Linked DNA regions of Homo sapiens. The protein of the gene in region 1 purifies or fractionates together with the protein of each later gene. This does not show direct contact. Each region holds a gene or a part of one and is shown in the gene's direction. Other genes may lie near its edges.

Evidence for each region.
Region 2: the proteins of CMIP (region 1) and MIB1 purify together in Homo sapiens (affinity purification with western blotting; one study listed by BioGRID). This does not show direct contact.

What each region holds. Positions count from the first base shown.
Region 1 is NC_000016.10:81,671,531-81,675,348, forward strand, and holds part of CMIP (C-Maf-inducing protein), read left to right. Parts: intron 1-435; coding exon 436-540; intron 541-3,818. UniProt on the Homo sapiens protein: Plays a role in T-cell signaling pathway. Isoform 2 may play a role in T-helper 2 (Th2) signaling pathway and seems to represent the first proximal signaling protein that links T-cell receptor-mediated signal to the activation of c-Maf Th2 specific factor.
Region 2 is NC_000018.10:21,845,233-21,849,050, forward strand, and holds part of MIB1 (E3 ubiquitin-protein ligase MIB1), read left to right. Parts: intron 1-1,711; coding exon 1,712-1,893; intron 1,894-3,818. UniProt on the Homo sapiens protein: E3 ubiquitin-protein ligase that mediates ubiquitination of Delta receptors, which act as ligands of Notch proteins.

The sequences.
Region 1 (3,818 bases):
TATTCCTGAACCACCAGGTGTGAGCATGACTGTCCCAGGACGTATGGCCACCATTTGCTAGGTCTCTCTGTGAATTAGAAAATTTGGTCCTAACTGTACCCCAACTGAGGAGGGGGCTGCTATCCTCATTTTATCGCTGCAGAAACAGGGTGGAGAGTTTAGGAGGTTTCCAAGGCCACTCAGGGGTTTGAACCCGGGAACCCTGGATCCGGAGTCCACAGCCAGGAGCTTTGCCTTCTGCTGCCTGCACGTGGCACAGCCGGGGCCCAAATCCTGGTGCCACCAATTGCACAGTGAAGGCTCTCAGAGCCCCCCAAGTGGCGCTGGCAGAGCGGGCAGCCCCGTGCCTGAGCAACGCCCTCCCTTTCCCCCCTTACCCTGTCCATGGGCCCCACTCCTGCAGGCTTCTCACCCCAGCCCTCTGCTTTTTTCCAGCATGCACGGCCCCACAGGGCACTGCCCCCACCCCCGGGTCCTGCCCAACCTGGTGGCCGTGTGCCTGGCTGCCATCTACTCCTGCTATGAAGAGTTCATCAACAGGTCAGTTGCTGAACCACCGCCACCCAGAGGGCTTGGGAGGGGCAAACTGCCACCCCCATCATGGGCAAAGTCACCAAGAACTGACCAGGCCAGAGAGGTGGAGTGGCTGTTTACTGGGCAGACCTCATGGTGTGTTTGCCAGTTCCCCTGGGCACATTGATTCATGGGCCCAGAAGCCAGGGATGCTGCTGAAAAAGCAAGCACTGAATCAGCACCGCAACTGCAAGGCTGTTAGAGCTGCTTGGCTTTAGGGACAGATGTTTTATGCTGAAGATTTCTCACCACTGGAGAGGTATGACACACTGGTGTGTGTGTGTGAATGTGTGCACATGGGTATGCAAATGCATGTGTGCACTGTACACATACATGTGACTGTGTGTACGTGTGTGCACATGGAGGTGTGAATATGTGCCCGTGTGTTGGGGACAAGGGTTGACAGTAAGGTTTATCCTGTCTAGTCTTGGCTTTGAGAACACAGGCTTTTGCCCATGATTTGCATGGTTTTATTTTATTTTTTTGAGACAGGGTCTCACCCTGTCACTTAGGTTGTGCGGCAATACAGTGGTGCAGTCATAGCTCACTGCAGCCTCAAACTCCTGGGCTCAAGCCGTCCTCCCACCTCAGCCTCCCGAGTAGCTAGGACCACAGGCACATGCCACCACTCATGGCTAATATTTAAAATTTTTTTGTAAAGACAGGATCTTGCTGTGTTACCCAGGCTAGTCTCAAACTCCTGGGCTTAAGCAGTCTTCCCATTTGGACCTCCCAGAATGCTGAGGTTACAGGCATGAGCCATTGCATCTGTTTTTCTTGAGCGCCTGCTGTGTGCTTGACACAATTTCAGTGCTGGAGAGCGAGCAAGATCACAAATTCCCTGCTCTCTTGGGGCTTCCATTCTACCAGGAAGAGATCATGTACAAGTAAATGTGCAAGATCATGTCAGAGGGTAAGAAAAACCGTGAGAGCAATAAAACCGAGTGGTGGGGTAGCAAGTGACCGGAAGAGGTGGCAGGGCAGGGCCACGACCTGGCTTTGGAGCCTCCAAAAGGAAACTCCAAGACCAGGATTTGGGTGGAAGTGGCTTCCTAGGAAGGTGGTCCCAGGAAACACTGGGGGACAGGGAAGGGAGGACATCAGTGAAGTATGAATTAATAAGCAGGTGAGGCTGGGCGCAGTAGCTCACACCTGTAATCCCAGCAGTTTGGAAGGCCAAGGCGGGCAGATCACTTGAGGTTAGGAGTTGGAGACCAGCCTGGCCAACATAGTGAAACCCCGTCTCTACTAAAAAAATATAAAAATTAGCCGGGCATGGTGGTACATGACTGTACTCAGCTACTCAGGAGGCTGAGGCGGGAGAATAGCTTGAACCTGGGAGGCAGAGGTTGCAGTGAGCCAAGATCACACCACTGCACTCCAGCCTGTGCAACAGAGTGAGACTCCTTCTCAAAAATAAATAAATAAATAAATAAGAAAGCAAGCAAGCAGGTGACCACTTCAGGCAGCTGGCATGCACTCCCACTGTGCCCCAGGAGGCCGTGCGTAACACACTGAGAGTTGCTCTGCTGAGAGTTGCTCCGCCGAGGCTGGCGGTGCTGGGATAGTCACTCACCAGCTCCCATCCCTCGCTGGCTGAGAACTGCTCCCGGGATGCAGACTAATGCAGATGCCATTAGTTTATGGGGAACTTTCTGCAGTGACCTCTGGTGTCATTGGAGAGGATGTGACATGCAGAACACAGTGGTCTCTGCTGCAGCCACCCAGTTGTTCAGGTGGTACACTACACAACTCCAAGGAGACCAACATGAGTCCAGACCCCACCAGAGCTGGGGATACAGCAGGAGGGTATTTCAGTCTTTTCTCAAAATGAAGGCAGTAGAGCATTCTGAGTCGCTGAAAACCTGTACAGGGGGGATTTCTCAAACAAATGCCGTACTGCTGAGTTCTTCGGAGGGGCAGGAAAAGGCATTTGATAAATCAGGGGCTGTTTTCTTGCAGCAGGGCATGAGAGAGGGTGACTCTTTTAATGCCCTCAGCCTCAGGTCCCGATGTTCAAAGGGGATCATGTCCCACCTTGAATCACTTCCCTGATCAGAAGGAAGTGCAGGGACTCCAGGGGCCAGAATGTGGAGATGGGAGGCTGCTCATTCCCAAGGGCATGTTCTGGAGCTGACAGCACGGTGAGGCAAAAAGAGGAGAAAACGGAAGCCAGAGGGTAGTATCAGGCCTGCCCTTTTGTATTTTTAGTAGAAATGGGGTTTCACCATGTTAGCCAGGATGGTCTTGATCTCCTGACCTCGTGATCCACCCACCTTGGCCTCCCAAAGTGCTGGGATTACAGGCGTGAGCCACCGCGCCTGGCTTACAGTATTTAAGTTATACCCAGAGTGTGCAGGAGCCAGCTCACACGTTACATTTGGGAACACATCCCTTCCCAGTTCTGTAATGATATCATATTGATAGCTTGAAGTAGCTGTGGTGAGTATTTACACCAAAGAAATTGGTAAACACTGCAGATCAGGGCTTCTTTTTTTTTTGAGACAGCTTAGCTGTTGTCGCCCAGGCTGGAGTGCAGTGGCACAATCTTGGCTCACTACAGCCTCCACCTCCTGGGTTCAAGCGATTCTCCTGCCTCAGCTTCCTGAGTAGCTGAGATTATAGGTGTGGGCCACCACACCTGGCTAATCTTTGTATTTTTAGTAGAGATGGGGTTTTACTTTGTTGGCCAGGCTGGTCTCGAACTCCTGACCTCAGGTGATCTGCCCGCCTCGGCTTCCCAAAGTACTGGGATTACAGGCGTGAGCCACCACATCCAGCCAGATCAGGGCTTCTTTCTTTGGAGAGTTGGTTGTTAGACATTTACCAGCGTACTTTGGGTTATATGTCAATTTAAAAAAAGAAAGAAAGAAAGAAAGAAAGAAAAGGGTGCCCAGGACCCTCCCAGTGCCATTCTGATTTAATTAGGATGGCCCTGGCATCTGTTTTTGGAAGGAGCGTTGGGGAGGTGATATTTACGTTAATACCTCCTGGCTGTTCTCCAGGCAAGAAGCAGGAAGAGGGTGACCCAGGGAGAGAACCACATGGAAAGGCCTGGCAGTGATGGGTGAAGGTGCCATTCGTCACAGTGTTTTTGTTTTTGGTTTTTGGGTTTTTTTGGAAACAGTCTCACTCTGTCACCCAAGCTGGAGTGCGGTGGCGCAATCTCTGCTCACTGCAACCTCTGCCTCCTGTCTTCAAGCAATTCTCATGCCTCAGCCACCCAAGTAGCTGGGATTACAGGT
Region 2 (3,818 bases), on another chromosome or scaffold:
ATCTCCTGACCTCGTGATCTGCCTGCCTCAGCCTCCCAAAGTGCTGGGATTACAGGCATGAGCCACCACACCCAGCCCTTTTCATTCTTCTAATAGTGATTTGGAAGAGTCAAATTTTTTAATTTTGAGGAAGTCTAATTTATCAAGTTTTTCTTTCATCATTTGTGTTTTTTGTGTGTGTTCTGTCTGAGATATCTTTGCCAAACCCAAGATCGCTAAGGTTTTCTTTTATGTTTTGTACTAGAAGTTTATAAAGTTTTAGCTGTTATGTTTAGGTCTATGATTCTTTTTGAGTTAATTTGTATATATTGTGTGACATATGGATCCAGGTTTATTTACTTGTGGATATCCAGTTGTTCCAGTGCCATTAGTTGAAAAGACTTTGTTTCTTTTCTTTTTTCTTTTTTTTGAGACAGAGTCTTGCACTGTTGCCTGGGCTGGAGTGCAATGGTGTGATCTTGGCACACTGCAACCTCTGCCTCCTGGGGTCACGCGATTCTCCTGCCTCAGCCTCCCAAGTAGCTGGCATTGCAGGTGCACACCACCACACCTGGCTAATTTTTTGTATTTTTAGTAGAGACAAGGTTTCACTATGTTGGCCAGACTGGTCCCGAACTCCTGACCTCATGATCCGTCTGCTTCAGCCTCCCAAAGTCCTGGGATTACAGGCATGAGCCACCACACTCGGCTGAAAAGACTTTCTTTTTCTACTGAATTGCCAGTATACTTTTATCCAAAATCAGTTAATTGTTTATGTGAAGGTCTCTTTCTGGATCATGTATTCTGTTCTGTTGGTCTATGTTTTTAGCTATTTGATACCAGCCCCCAGTCTTAATTACTGTCTACATAATACGTGTTGAAGTCAGGTAGTGTCAGTCCTCCAGTTTTCTTGTTTTTTCGAAGTTATTTGACTATTCTAAGTCCTTCACATTTCCATAAGAATTTTAAAATCATTTTTTAGAGGGTAAAAAGGTTCTGAGACCAAAGTGTTTGAGACCTCTGCCTTATTTATGACCATGGGTAAGTTCTCTTAGCTCGGTGTGCCTCTTTTTTTCTCATTTTAAAATGGGAAGAGGAGAGCACTTACCTCGATAAGGTTGTTGTAAAGATCATGGAAAGTGTGTAAAATAATACTTGATCCATTTTAGACACTCAATAAATGTTAACAGTTATTGTGACTATTTTCACATAAGATGATGAGAAGAATCTCAGATAATATTATCAGAACCTAATTTGTCTCATTCTCCGTATCTTGGCTCAATTCCTAGTCATTGGTTCTTTTCTCAGTTGTCTCTCCTGTCATTGTTTCAAGTTGGTTGCTAGCTGCTCCAGAGCCAAATTAATTAGGAAAGAGAGTACTGTTTCTTTAGTATCTCAATCAGAAGTTCCACTTTTGAGTTCTGTTGGGCTTAATTGACTTGATTTGTGTTATGTGTCCATCCCGGTTCTAGCCATATAGGTAAGGTAGAGGTATCTGACTGGTTTGGGCCATGTTTGGTCCACCTCTGCAGCTGGAGAATGTAGGTCCACCTCTACAACTGGAGAAAGCATACTTGTGTGTATGCTTGAGAAAACCAGGGGTAGAGTGGTGGGGAGGGAACATTAGGACTAGAACTCATAAGTGTCCACCACACACACATACATATATATGATGACAAGAATTGATGGCAGATTCCTAGAGGGAAAATCATGACTCTTTATTTTATTGCAGTTAATAATGGGACTTGGTACCCAGGGGGCAGAGAAGAAGAGTGCAGCATCTATTGCCTGTTTCTTGGCAGCCAATGGTGCTGACCTGAGCATTCGAAATAAGAAGGGTCAATCGCCACTTGATCTCTGTCCTGATCCGAATCTCTGCAAAGCACTGGCAAAGTGTCATAAGGAAAAAGTCAGGTTTGTATTATTTATTATCATAAAACTTAATATTCTGTACAGAAAATATCATGTGGTTTCGTAATGGAGGACGTGGCTACTTGAAAATGTCTTCATCTTTGCTCTTCCTGTATATTTGTGTTGACCCTTTCTTTCCTGAAATTTTTCTTCCTTGAAAATTTTTCTGCAGGCAGCATGTCTCTTATTTTATGCCATATTCCCCACATTATTGAGTGCAATGCTCTATACTTAATAAGTTCTGAGAAACTTTTCTAAACTAGTCTGATCTTCTAGTACTCCCATGTGTTAGAGGGATTTATGAGAAAAAGTCTTCTAGTAAAATTGCTGTTGTTAATGTTACATGTATTTTAAATTGTATTTATTTTTTATTGTATTATTATTATTTTTTAAAAATACGTCTTGCTGTGTTGCCCAGGTTGGGCTTAAACTCCTGGGCTCAAGCAATCCTCTTGCTTCATCCTCAGTAGCTGGGACTGTATGCATGTGCCACTGTGCCTGGCTCTATATTTAAAATTTAAATAGAATCTTCCTAAGACAGGCAACTTATACTCCATGAACAGGGTATATCTCACACAAACTGTAGCACCCTGCTCAGTGCCTGACAGGTGCACTCAGTATCAGTGGAGAATGAACAAATGAATGCACCAAGTCCTGGTGGAGTTTTCTCTAAAGATGATCATTTCACATTTGTCTCTTTTTCTGAAAGATATGTCAGTGATTTTAATTATTATTTATGACATAACTAATTTCCTTATGAGATTTTATAGATGTACAAAAAGGTACACATCTCATTGCTTTTTTAAATCTGAACAGTGCTGTGCAACTGTTGTTGCCCTTTGTACCTGGTTCTTGTCACTGAAATTTCAGTAGCTGTTCCTTAACCTTAGTGTTCCTTGCCTCTCTCATAATTTATGTGTAGTGATGAAATGTCATCTCTTTGGAATCTGTGCATAGAACTGTGTTATAGAGGAAATTAATATAGTGAGGTATATACATTTCTTTAAGTGTATTGTTAAGGAACATGAAATTCTATTACAAAAAGAGAATGCATCGGCCGGGCGTGGTGGCTCACACCTGTAATCTGAGCACTTTGGGAGGCCGAGGCAGGTGGATTGAGGTCAGGAGTTCAAGACCAGCCTGACTAACATGGTGAGACCCTGTCTCTACTAAAAATACAAAAACTAGCTGGGCGCATGCCTATAATCCCAGCTACTTGGGAGGCTGAGGCAGGAGAATTGCTTGAACCGGGAGGCGGAGGTTGCAGCAGTGAGCCGAGATCACACCACTGTACTCCAGCCTGGGCAACAAGAGCAAAATTCTGTCTCCAAAAAAAAAAATCTATAAATATAAAGATATAAGGCACTATAATTATTGCAGTAATAACTTTTAAACAATGGAGTCTAAGGTGGACCCTCTGTGTACGTGTTGTGTACGTGTTCGTGAGTTTCTGAAGATTGTGGTAGAAACAGGGCATCCCTTTTCTGTAGCTGTAGGTGGTCATATGTATTTCTGTTCCTTGTATCTGTGTTTACGGATGCAGTCTATCTTTCTGTAATATAATTTTATGTTCCTTAAGGATACACTTAAAAATGTCAAAACAGCAGCTGAAGTGTTAAATTTTCCAAAGTGCCCTATCTGTTGTGGACTCTGATGATGCTTTGTTCCGTCTTTAGTAAGGCAACTAACATGGGGGCTAGTGAGGATTTTTGTTTTATTCCTATGCCTTCCTCTGCTGGTTCTATATAGATACAACAGGTTCTGAGCAAAATTTTGTTTATGCTAAGTTTTTTTTTTAATTGCTGTTTTTTATTTCATTGTTAGAAGATTCACCCTTTTCCATTGGGTGAGTGAGTGTTCAGTTTGAAGTTTGAATTGTGTTAGAAGTATCTAAAGATGCAGAGACGCATATAAACACAAAAATTTAA